3 separate regions of the Homo sapiens genome follow, and all the other regions are reported to be linked to region 1. Evidence: microRNA targets listed by miRTarBase, many of them from high-throughput screens and not tested one by one. Region 1 holds a microRNA gene; each other region holds the end of a gene's coding sequence. Distances are from middle to middle.

Region 1 (4,108 bases):
GTATGCCCAGTTATTAATAAGGGGCTCTCAAATTCTGTTGCCTTTTTTGATTGCCCTGGAATTTGACATATATAGAACATGGTTCCATTCAGTGAGCCATTCTCTAGGCCTTGGAAATCTTCTAACAATAAAAATCCTTCTGGCCGGGTGCGGTGGCTCACGCCTGTAATCCTAGCACTTAGGGAGGCCAAGGTGGGCGGATCACCTGAGGTCAGGAGTTCAAGACCGGCCTGGCCAACTTGGTGAAACCCTGTCTCTACTAAAAATACAAAAAATTAGCCGGGTGTGGTGGCGGGCACCTGTAATCCCAGCTACTTGGGAGACTGAGGCAGAAGAATTGCTTGAACAGAGGCGGAGGTTGCAGTGAGCTGAGATTGTGCCACTGCACTCCAGCCTGGGTGACAGAGCGAGACTCTTTCTCAAAAAAAACAAAAAAAAAACAAAAAACAAAAACCACAAAAACCTTTTTTCTATAGCAATGTGTCTCATTTTAAGTTTAACCAGTAACTCAGACTCTAGCTATCGCTCTCTGAACATGTGTAGCCCCAGCGCCCAGCTACTGCTCAGCTCATGCCCTGGTCAATGCAGCCTGTCTCCATTCCTTTCAGTTTGAATGAATTCACAACCTATGGCAGCGAAGAAAGCAGTAAGTCAGCCCTGTGCATCCGCAGGCCCAGTGGGCCCTGAGGAGGGGTGTGGCGGGAGAGTGTGGGAGGGAGGAGGGCTCCCCAGCTCAACAGGGGGAGGCTGTGCTCCCTCCTCAGAGCCATGACCAATGGAAGCTTCCACAGAGCTTGAAAGTGGATAATGCTGGAAAAGGATTCTTCCCAGACCATCCCTGTGTCTCCTTCCCCCCCTCATCCCTTTACGACTTGGTTAGGTATGCCAGGAGAGGGTGCTGGGGGTCTTTGGTCTCAAGGAAGGGATGATGTTCCAGTTGAGACTCAAGAAAAGGATTCTGAGCCTCAGAGCTTTGAAGGAGCCACTTGGTCCCTGACCTTCCTAGAGGCAAATCCCGATCCCTGTCAACCCAGACACGGGCTCCCCCCTGCCCTCGTCTGGGAGCTCAGCCTTCCCGTCCTTCCACAGCCAAACCGGCCTCCGTCCGGGCCCTGCTGTTTGACATCTCCTTCCTCATGCTGTGCCATGTGGCCCAGACCTATGGTTCAGAGGTGAGAGAGGGGAGCGACCGGGACGGGGGCTCAAGGGAAGGAGGTAACCCGGAACTCTCCCCACCTCACTGCCTGCGCCCCCGCAGCCTCTCAGCCAGTTAGTTCTGTGGGCCTCAGAAACCAGGTGCCCACCCGGGCTGGAGTCCGTAGAGGCACCTTCAGCCCTATGTTCACATTGACCACTAGGTGGCAGCATTGCCCCCGTCTGGCTCCCTTAGACCAGTTCGTCCCCAGTCTTTGGGCTGGGCTGGAGCAGCAGCCTGGCGGGAAACAGTGCAGCCCCAGGTCCAGCGCTGGCAGGCGCCGCGCCCTCCCCACTCGGCTGGTGCCCCCCTTCCCCTTTCCCAGGTGATTCTGTCCGAGTCGCGCACAGGAGCTGAGGTGCCCTTCTTCGAGACCTGGATGCAGACCTGCATGCCTGAGGAGGGCAAGATCCTGAACCCTGACCACCCCTGCTTCCGCCCCGACTCCACCAAAGTGGAGTCCCTGGTGGCCCTGCTCAACAACTCCTCGGAGATGAAGCTAGTGTCAGTGGCCCGGGCGCCCACTCCAAGGGTGGCGGTGGGGGCAGGGTCAAGACCCGCTCCCTGAGCCCGTTCCTTGCTCCCCTGTGCTGACTTCTCTGCACACCCGCAGGCAGATGAAGTGGCATGAGGCCTGTCTCAGCATCTCAGCCGCCATCTTGGAAATCCTCAATGCCTGGGAGAATGGGGTCCTGGCCTTCGAGTCCATCCAGGTAGCCCCGCCTTCCCAGCAGCGTTTGCTCCCCTGAGACACAGAGCCAGCCAGTGATGACTTGTTATATTTCGTAAGGGCAAGAAGACCTTTAATCCAGGAGCTCATGTTTTGATATTGATATTTTGTGTAATCGTTGTCTTAGCTACTCCCTCTGGCCCAGGTAGCTCTGGGAAGATCAAACTTGTGGAGAGAGGTGTGGAATGTGGCCCGGGACTCCACCCGCTGCACTTAGCTGCCCGCAGAGGCTGAGAAGGTGATGTTGGCTCAAGAAAGGGAGATAGATGGTAGCCCATCACCTTTCCGTCTCCCCTAGAAAATCACTGATAACATCAAAGGGAAGGTATGCAGTCTGGCGGTGTGTGCTGTGGCTTGGCTTGTGGCCCACGTCCGGATGCTGGGGCTGGATGAGCGTGAGAAGTCGCTGCAGATGATCCGCCAGCTGGCAGGGCCACTGTTTAGTGAGAACACCCTGCAGTTCTACAATGAGAGGTCGGTAACCTGCCTTCCCTTCTCAGACCCTTCAAGTGTGTTGTGAGAAGTCAGCACATCCAATAACAAGCACCCCTCTCTTTTCTGACCTTCGCAAACACGCTACTTGATCACTCACTCACTTTCCTATTCATGCATTCACTCATCTGACTCAGCAAACATGTACTGTGTCTCTGTGGCAGAAGCGTTTATATGCCAGCACCTGCTGTGTTGTCAGAAATGCAGACCCTAAACAGGGTCTGCCCGCAGAGACTCAAGTTCTAGACAACTAGCTCCCAAAAGAACAAAGCTGTGTGACTGTCTAGGAGCTAGGAACCTGTCTGTAGATTTTACAGGCCATGCCCCACCCTCAGTTACCTCTTAGGACAGTTTCCTGCCCTGGCTCTTCAGGGGCTTGGAGGACTTCCCTGGTGACCAGTTACGTTGAGTTCATTCACCCAACCAATAAGTTGTTTGCTTTTTTTAATTGTAAAAAACACATAAGATTTGCCATCTTAGCCATGTTTAAGTGTACTGTTCAGTAGTGTTAAGTATATTCACACTGTTGTGTAACAGGTCTCCAGAACTTTCTTGCATCTCTGAAACTCCATACCCACTGAACAACAGCTTCCTATTTTCCCCTCCCTCCAGCTCCTGGTAACTACCATTTTACTTTGTGTGTCTAGGAATTTGACTACTTTATACTTTTTGTTGTTGTTGTTGTTGAGACAAGGTCTTACCCTTGCCCAGATCAGAGTGAGTCTCACTGCAACCTCAAATTCCTGGGCTCAAGTGATCCTCTCGCCTCAGCCTCCCGAGTAGCTGGGACTGCAGGCCCACAGCCGGCTAATTTTTCTAGTCTTTGTAGAGACAGGGTCTCACTATATTGCCAGGTCTTGAACTCCTGGCCTTGAGTGATCCTCTCACCGTGGTCTCCCAAAGTGCTGGGATTACAGGCGTGACCCACCGTGCCCTGCTGAATTTGACTACTTTTTAGATGCCTCATTTAACTGGAATCATACAGTCCTTGCCTTTTCGTGACTCACTGACTTCACTCAGCATGGTGTCCTCAAAGCTCATCCATGTAGTAGCACGTGACAGGAATTCCTTCCTTTTTAAGGCTGAATAATACTCTGTTGTGGGCCGGGCGTGGTGGCTCACGCCTGCAATCCTAGCACTTTGGGAGGCTGAGGTGAGTGGCTCACTTGAGGTCAGGAGTTTAAGGCCAGCCTGACCAACATGGTGAAACCTTGGCCTTACTAAAAATATAAAAATGAGCAGGGAGTGGTGGCAGGCGCCTGCAATCCCAGCTACTTGGGAGGCTGAGACAGGAGAATTGCTTGAACCCAGGAAGCGGAGGTTGCAGTGAGCCGAGATCACGCCACTGCACTCCAGCCTGGGTGAAAGAGTGAGACTCTGTCTCAAAAAACAAAACAAAAACAAAAGAAACCTCTATTGTGTGGCTATACCACATCTTGATCCCTCCTCTGTCAGTGGACACTTCAGTTGCTTCCACCTTTGGGCTATAGTGAATAGTGCTGCTGTGAACATGGGTGTTTACCAGCTAATACGTTTTGGGTGTTGCCATGTCTTTATGGCAACGTTGAGGATGTCTTTATTTATTTATTTATGTACTTATTTTTGAGACGGCGTTTCGCTCTGTCACCCAGGCTGGAGTGCTGTGGCACTATCTAGGCTCACTGCAATCTCCGCCTCCTGGGTTCAAGAGA
Region 2 (4,108 bases), 37 Mb from region 1:
TTGTGTTGAGATGATGCTGACAAAGCTGAACCACTGAATCTTTTTCAAGAAACGTCATTTTACATGATTGGCATAGACAGACACTCTCATTAAGACCTTCCATCGCGAGCTTTTCTGCACCTGTTTTTAAGCGTCAACTGAGCTGGAGGCATATGGGTGACCCTACAGTGCCTGAAAAGTAGTTTCTTCAGTGAGTCAGGCAGTTCCCAGAGCCAGAGATGTGTCCCGGAAAACATCCCCTCGTGGAGATCACAGTGGAAATGCCTCAAACACCAGCGTGAGCACCATCTAGATGAGCCTAGTCACGAGGGCCAATGAGGTTTGGGCAAATCTTTGAGCCCCAAGACTGGGCGCAGCATAAAAGGAAAGACATTTTAGATCAGAGCAGATGTAGGGACAGCGTGGGGGAAACAGCCCTCCAGGAACCCGAGCTGCCCGCCCCGTGGTCTAGGGGAGGGAGGGGAGGCTGGGCCATCCTTGTTCTCCTCCTCCCTCTCAGCACTGCCCGGGTGGGCTGGAAGTGCACACTCTGGAAGCCACAGGATGGAGCTCCTAGAGATAGTGAGGCATGACCAGAGGGAAGAGGCATTTGGGGTCCTGTTCAGATCATTCCAACAGCAAACCGGGCATGGAGACCCCATCTCAGGTCTGTGCTTCTCTGGGGGCCACCCAGCCATCCTGCCCACCAGCTCAGAGGCAGGGACAAAGCCCTCCCAAGAGGCAGCAGGCAGCAAGGGTCAGCCAGCGCAGTGGGGACAGGCAGGTATGGGATTCCCAAATGGGACAGCATGGTGACAACCTGGAAACCCCAAAGGACCCCAGATGGCAATGTGACACGGCCCATCCACCAAGCACCTGTAATGCCGGCTTCCCACAGAGGCGAGCCAGATCCTGCAACTGTTCTTAAAGAAATGCAGTTTGACCTTGCCAGTGCCTCCAGAAGCCCAGCCAACAAAACGCGTCCAGAACGTACAGGCCTCTTTCCAGCCGTGGGGGCTGCTACGGTGACTCTTCATAAAAGCTAAACAGATATTTTGTTGACCTTCTAACAAGAATAAATTTTACTAGACTAGTACTTTAGAGAAAGTACTAGCAAAGGGAGAGCTCCTCTCCAGCTTGCAAACAGGACTCAATCATTCCCACACACGTGGCGGGGAAGAAAGATCACAATGTTGCTTGAATGGCAAAAGCTATAGGGAGAATTTCACAATGTCAGTTAAAAAAAAAAAAAAAAAGTGTAGTATTTATATCTTGGGCACAGGTCCAGATCCCTATGGGAATAAAGCATTCAGCTGGAAATCCTTGTCATTGGTCGTGGGGCAGGTGCCCAGCCAGTGTCACTCTGCAGCCCCGTCTGCACTGAAAGGGGCTCTTCAGGCTCGTTGTACCTGGAGGATGCCCACCTTAACCCCAACCCGGGCCCATCGGCAGAGAAGCCCACGGCGCTGCAGACTCGGAAGGGGGAGAAGCCAGGAGGGGATGTCCTTGGAGGTGAGCTGGCTGTCCCAGCAAGGGGGCTCTGTGGAGGGTGGGGGTGGCATGTGGGTCACAGGGTCTGACCCACACCCAGATGGGGTCCAGGTTGCAGAAACCCTTCAGATGTGACAGCTGCCTACAGACCCGCAGCTGGAGAGGGGAACAGGATTGGGGGGTTGAGCCCCAGACGCAGCTGCCCAAGGGCACAGTAGCTGGAAAAGGCCCCAGGGCCAGGCTGGGCCCCCCAAGACTCCAGGGGCGTAAGCTGCTGAGGGACACTGTGCCCCTTCCCCACCCAGGGGCCTGATCAGAACCCGCAAGTCATCCCCCCCTCACCTCTCTCCTCGAGTAAGTGGGGAGGGGAGATAACGACGTCTTCCTTGAACCCCCATTGTCAGCAGAGACCTGGGCTCCGGCCTGGCCCTCAGGCCCGAGGTTTTCCTCAACCAACACAGCAGCATCTCAGCACTGGCTCCTTTGCTCTCCCTGAATTCCTTCTCACTCCTGGCTTCCCACCCCTTTGTGGGAAAATATCTTCTCAAAGGGAAGAGACTGCCTCGGGGCTGCCCCTCCCTCCCCTCACCCCACAGCAGCCATAATCAGGAGAAACCGGGTGGGACCCAAAGTCCCCGCCTCAGTCCAGGAAGTGTGCAGCGCAGTTCTGGCCCGTCCAGCTCTGGCTCTGAGCTTGAACTGGCTGGAGCCCCGCTCACGGTACACTGGCAGCAGGGGCAGGGCAGCCCTGGGCCTACGTCAGCAGATGGGAAAGGCGTTCAGCACAGAAGCAGATAGACGGTTTAGAGCTCCAGAGCTACGGGGGCAATAGCGCCGAATTTTATCAGGATGGCCTCAAGGATGCTACGAATCTTGGCTCCTGGGAACATGGGGCCTCCACCACCGAGTGCGTTCCTGGTAGTAAAGCCTGCCACGTTCAGGAAGGCACTGCCCTGTGGCCAAGACCCTCACCGAGGCTCTGCTCCCACCCCCTACTCTGTCTCTGAGGCAGACCAGCTCCCCAGTCACTGCTGAGCTCCCCCCAGATCCCCCTTTGCCCGACACTTTTCCTCTCCAGGATGAATAGGATGATAAAGGACCCGGACATCACACTGGGAGGTCAGGAGCAGGAGGAACCTGAGGAAGGAGGCCTCGTCCAGAGATGGGAGGGGCTGGGAGGGCATGTAGGTGAGGGCGGAGGCAGGGCTGTGGCCAGACTGGGACACCTGGACCAACAGCACATCTGTGGGCACGTGGCCATGGGGCAGCAGGGCTGGGACTGTCAGGGTCGTGGACGGCACTCCCAAACTGCTGGTACAGGAGCCTTTTCCAGGACAGAAGAGGGGATTCCCTGAGGAGACAAGGAGGAGGCGGCGATGAGCGAACATTCCGTACAGGAAGGAGGGGACGACGCGGACGTCGGGAGCAAGGGGTGGGGAACACGCCTGCCCATGGCTACAGCTCACTGGATACACTCAGGAGCAGGAGGGCACCTGATGTAAGGGTGCCCCACCTTGCGTGGCCCGAGAAGCTGCGCATAGCCACGGCTTTGGTGGGCAGTGGCGTCCAGAGTGCGTGATGGGAGCCGGGGGTGAAGGTCCATATGCCCATTTGTCTTCTGCTTTTTCATAAATCAGGTTGAACACAGAGTGGGTTCGGTTGTACCCCTCCTCTTGGCTCCAGCTGTGACTCTGACCCCTGAAGCCCCATGTGGGGAGAGGGCTGGGAGCTCAGATGGGTCTCTGGTGACTTCCCCAGCAGAAATCCAGGCCTTGATGGGGGCGAGCTGGACCCACGGCCACTCTGCTCAAACCACGTGCCCCCTCAAAGCAGGCAGGGGAAGAGGCCTCCTGGGGTGGTCCCTCACAGTGCTGACTCCCGACAGGGAGGGAGAACACACCTCAGCCCAGGGCCTCCGCCAAAGACACAAGGAGGGAACAGCTGCCTGAGGGCAGGGGAGCAAGGGAGCCCTCAGGAACTCCTCCCTCCTGGGTCAGAAGCGGGCTTGGGCGACTCCCCTTCTGCCTGCGGGAACCAGACCCCATCGGTGGAAGGGAGGCCTAACTAGTACGTCTAGTCCAGTGTCACTGGGAACCCCCTTCCCATCCGCACACAGGCCATCTGCCCCTCCTTCCCCATTGCAGGTCTTCAGGGGCGAGTAGGAGACTCTTTGGACATCCCCAGCTGGCGGCATCTCTCCGGCCATTCTGAGGTTACAAGGCCTCTAGTTCCCTGATCTAAAAGAAACACACGTCCCCCCTCACGGCCACAGCAGGACATTCACTCAACCCACCTTGGACAGGCGAAGGACTCCACTTTCACATTAGTGACCCTGTTTCAACAAAAATCCATACAGGAGTTTAAATAACCAGACAGCACAGGTCCCTTCCACGGCGGCTCTGTGCACTCAGCTCTCAACAGTCTGGTGAGCTCAGGAAGGGATTCAGGACCCCAGGAACAAGCACTTCCCACCTCACATCTGGACCTGGAGTTCTCGATAGTCTGGCGAGCTCAGAAAGGGACTGGGGGACCCGGGAACCAGCCCTTCCCACCTCACATCTGGACCTGGAGCTCTCGATAGTCTGGAGAGCTCAGGAAGGGATTCGGGACCCAGGAACCAGCCCTTCCCACCTCACAT
Region 3 (4,108 bases), not on the chromosome of region 1:
CCGTAATCCAGTCACCTCCCACCAGGTAATGCCCCCCACCCCCAGCATGGGGGGATTACAGGTGGAGATGAGATTTGGGTGGGGACACAGCCATATCACCATCCCAAGTTGCAAGCGGAAGACTTTGGTTCTTAGGTTTTTGGAGAAAGTACCTGTTAAGTGAGGAGAGCTGGCTACAAAGCAGATCCACACTAAGCTCAACTCTAGGGCTGGCTGGGATGGAGGCGGGCGGGACTGGGTGTGTGTGAAGCTGTTGGAAGGACTGCAAGTGGCGAGCAGGAGAGCACTTGATAATGACTGTGGCATGAAGGGAGGCTAGGAACAGAGCCCGTTACTCATGCTAACAGGATTTTTTTTCTAAAAATTATATAATGTCTAGAGTTACAGGTAAAAAAAGAAATGGTAGTTTTAAAACTGCCCAGGTTCCGGCATCACAGTTCCTCTTCCTGTCTTGGACGCAGAGGGTTGTAAACCCCCCATGCACCCTGAGGGTGCTCCTCTTCGAAGCCACAGCCCAGCACAGTTCAGTGCTGCCTTAGCCTGCCAGGACAGAGGGAGGTGACAGTCTGTTCTCATAGCCAGGAGGATAGGACTTCTGGGTGAGAAGTCCTCTTATTAATTTGCTTTCCAAAGGCCAAAGAAGCCCAGGATGACCTGGTGAAGACCAAGGAGGAGCTGCACCTGGTGATGACAGCACCCCCGCCCCCACCACCCCCCGTGTACGAGCCGGTGAGCTACCATGTCCAGGAGAGCTTGCAGGATGAGGGCGCAGAGCCCACGGGCTACAGCGCGGAGCTGTCTAGTGAGGGCATCCGGGATGACCGCAATGAGGAGAAGCGCATCACTGAGGCAGAGAAGAACGAGCGTGTGCAGCGGCAGCTGCTGGTGAGGCCCAAGGGGCTCTGTCTCCAGGGAGCCTGCCTCGCTTTTGGAGCAGACAGGCTTGGGGAGGGCAGTGATGTGAGCCAGCCCCACCCAGCACCCCTCTTGCCCTTCCTGTTTTCCTAGGGGACGGGCCGGGCCATATGGGGAGGAAGGGACTAGACCAATGCTGCTTAATGTTACAGACGCTGAGCAGCGAGCTGTCCCAGGCCCGAGATGAGAATAAGAGGACCCACAATGACATCATCCACAACGAGAACATGAGGCAAGGCCGGGACAAGTACAAGACGCTGCGGCAGATCCGGCAGGGCAACACCAAGCAGCGCATCGACGAGTTCGAGGCCCTGTAACAGCCAGGCCAGGACCAAGGGCAGAGGGGTGCTCATAGCGGGCGCTGCCAGCCCCGCCACGCTTGTGTCTTTAGTGCTCCAAGTCTAGGAACTCCCTCAGATCCCAGTTCCTTTAGAAAGCAGTTACCCAACAGAAACATTCTGGGCTGGGAACCAGGGAGGCGCCCTGGTTTGTTTTCCCCAGTTGTAATAGTGCCAAGCAGGCCTGATTCTCGCGATTATTCTCGAATCACCTCCTGTGTTGTGCTGGGAGCAGGACTGATTGAATTACGGAAAATGCCTGTAAAGTCTGAGTAAGAAACTTCATGCTGGCCTGTGTGATACAAGAGTCAGCATCATTAAAGGAAACGTGGCAGGACTTCCATCTGTGCCATACTTGTTCTGTATTCGAAATGAGCTCAAATTGATTTTTTAATTTCTATGAAGGATCCATCTTTGTATATTTACATGCTTAGAGGGGTGAAAATTATTTTGGAAATTGAGTCTGAAGCACTCTCGCACACACAGTGATTCCCTCCTCCCGTCACTCCACGCAGCTGGCAGAGAGCACAGTGATCACCAGCGTGAGTGGTGGAGGAGGACACTTGGATTTTTTTTTTTGTTTTTTTTTTTTTTGCTTAACAGTTTTAGAATACATTGTACTTATACACCTTATTAATGATCAGCTATATACTATTTATATACAAGTGATAATACAGATTTGTAACATTAGTTTTAAAAAGGGAAAGTTTTGTTCTGTATATTTTGTTACCTTTTACAGAATAAAAGAATTACATATGAAAAACCCTCTAAACCATGGCACTTGATGTGATGTGGCAGGAGGGCAGTGGTGGAGCTGGACCTGCCTGCTGCAGTCACGTGTAAACAGGATTATTATTAGTGTTTTATGCATGTAATGGACTATGCACACTTTTAATTTTGTCAGATTCACACATGCCACTATGAGCTTTCAGACTCCAGCTGTGAAGAGACTCTGTTTGCTTGTGTTTGTTTGTTTGCAGTCTCTCTCTGCCATGGCCTTGGCAGGCTGCTGGAAGGCAGCTTGTGGAGGCCGTTGGTTCCGCCCACTCATTCCTTCTCGTGCACTGCTTTCTCCTTCACAGCTAAGATGCCATGTGCAGGTGGATTCCATGCCGCAGACATGAAATAAAAGCTTTGCAAAGGCACGAAGCAGCACGGGTGTGTGCTTGTGTGTGGGGTGGGAGGGCTACCGCCGACTCGTCTGGGCTCTATGCTGTCCTCTGGCCAGGTTTCGTGAGGGGCCGTGGTGTCCCTGGGGGTACACTGGTAAGTTGGAGCTGACCAACCCAAGACATGGTGCTCCATGGGTCACCTAACCTCCTCGAGATGGTTTCCACAGGAGAGAAAGACTGCTCCAACACTCATCAGGCTCCTCTAAAATGCTCCTCATAGCCGGGCACAGTGGCTCACACCTGTAATCCCAGCACTTTGGGAGGCCGAGGTGGTCGGATCACGAGGTCAGGAGATCGAGACCATCCTGGCCAACATGGTGAAACCCCATCTTTACTAAAAATACGAAAATTAGCCTGGTGTGGTGGTGCATACCTATAATCCCAGCTACTTGGGAGGCTGGGGCAGGAGAATTGCTAGAACCCGGGAGGCGGAGCTTGCAGCAAGCCAAGATCGTGCCACTGCACTCCAGCCTGGTGACGGGGAGACTCCGTCTCAAAAAATAAAGTGCTTCTCACAGCGAAGCTGTGACTCCCCCCCCCGCCTTGAGACAGGGTCTTACTTTGGCCCAGGCTGGAGCACAGTTGCATGATCGGGGCTTACTGCAGCCTCAACCTCCTGGGCTCAATCCTCCCGGTTCAGCCTCCTGAGTAACTGGGACTACAGGTGTGTACCACCACACCTGGATAATTTTTTGGTTTTTTTGTAGACAGGGTATCTATGTTGCCTGGGCTGATCTCACACTTCTGAGCTCAAGCCATCCACTGCAGCCTCCCAAAGTTGCTGGGATTACAGGGGGGAGTTACCATGCCCACCAGCCGGCCTTTTACCTCATTTGATAAGCACTGGAGGACATGGGTAACAACGTTTATTAAAATCTGGCCATTTTCTACATCTCAAAGAGGAGATAACCCACCAGAGGCTTAGGTAACATAATTGTGTTTAACGTAAATATACACAGATACCAATAGGCGGTTAAGCCATGGGACAGGGCCGCAGATGGAGACTGCTCAAGGTCAAAGGGGTCTCCAGCTGGGACCCTGCACCTGGTTCGTAGCCCCTCTGCAGACGCACAGTGCCTCACGCCTGCTGCAACCTGGAACCTTGAGGCCTTCATGTCAGTGCAGGACAAGAGTCATGTCTGTCCATAGATTGGGGCTGGAAAGGACTTTCTGCCACTGGAGCTTCGATAGTGAGCATGCATCCCCGCCAACAGCTGTGTCTCCCTCTGTAAGAGAGGAAGACAATTTAGCCATGGTCGGGGAGGGCACCACTTCATCCCCTCTCATCCCTTTAAAAATGATGACCAGCCAGAAGTTTTTCACCTCAAGTCCACATTAAAAGGCCAACCACTGATGACAGACGCCGCCACCACCACTCCCACCCCAACAAAGCTGGTGTTGAGACTGGGATTCACGCAGGCATCCTCTGCTCTGCGAGGCTCTAACAGCCTGGAGTTCTGTAGTTTGAAAGTGAGGCGAGGACTCTGGTTTGGTGGGCTGGGTCTTCACCAAGGGAGTGGATAGTTGCACACCAGCATGGCTAGCTGGGTGGGGCCGTCTCAGACTGGGGGCTGGGCTTGCCCATGGGAAGGGATTCTTAGAGGAAGACAGTATGCTTTGGACAAAATATCTTTGAAAAGCAATGGAGCAGTGAAGCTTATTTCTCTTCAGTCACTGGTTCTC

Evidence for each region. The annotated mature microRNA hsa-miR-6884-5p reads AGAGGCUGAGAAGGUGAUGUUG and lies in region 1 at 2,151-2,172, shown strand. An mRNA with a match to its seed (bases 2 to 7 or 8) in the 3' UTR can be bound and repressed. Matches are read on the target gene's strand: a 7mer-m8 pairs with bases 2 to 8, a 7mer-A1 pairs with bases 2 to 7 and ends in A, and an 8mer does both.
Region 2: miRTarBase lists RAP1GAP2 as a target of hsa-miR-6884-5p. Seed matches in the 3' UTR shown: 7mer-m8 at 463-469.
Region 3: miRTarBase lists SYTL3 as a target of hsa-miR-6884-5p. The part of its 3' UTR that is shown has no 7-base or 8-base seed match.

The regions. Positions count from the first base shown.
Region 1 is chr17:40,024,447-40,028,554 of GRCh38, reverse strand. It overlaps MIR6884 (microRNA 6884), which reads left to right and starts at 2,146; the gene lies at 2,146-2,223. It overlaps MED24 (mediator complex subunit 24), which reads left to right. Exons shown (of 26, transcript NM_014815.4): 15 at 609-646; 16 at 1,090-1,172; 17 at 1,521-1,699; 18 at 1,809-1,908; 19 at 2,224-2,399. It overlaps SNORD124 (small nucleolar RNA, C/D box 124), which reads left to right and starts at 910; the gene lies at 910-1,013. RefSeq lists an enhancer at 998-1,908.
Region 2 is chr17:3,032,105-3,036,212 of GRCh38, reverse strand. It overlaps RAP1GAP2 (RAP1 GTPase activating protein 2), which reads right to left. Exons shown (of 25, transcript NM_015085.5): 24 at 3,764-3,802; 25 at 1-2,821. The coding sequence ends at 3,794. Among named protein-coding and RNA genes, the nearest start is that of OR1D5, 29 kb to the left of the region's middle.
Region 3 is chr6:158,764,038-158,768,145 of GRCh38, reverse strand. SYTL3 (synaptotagmin like 3) reads right to left here. Exons shown (of 18, transcript NM_001242394.2): 18 at 3,275-3,651. The coding sequence ends at 3,542. It overlaps EZR (ezrin), which reads left to right. Exons shown (of 14, transcript NM_001111077.2): 13 at 634-885; 14 at 1,068-2,398. The coding sequence ends at 1,232. MIR3918 (microRNA 3918) reads left to right here and starts at 3,393; the gene lies at 3,393-3,485.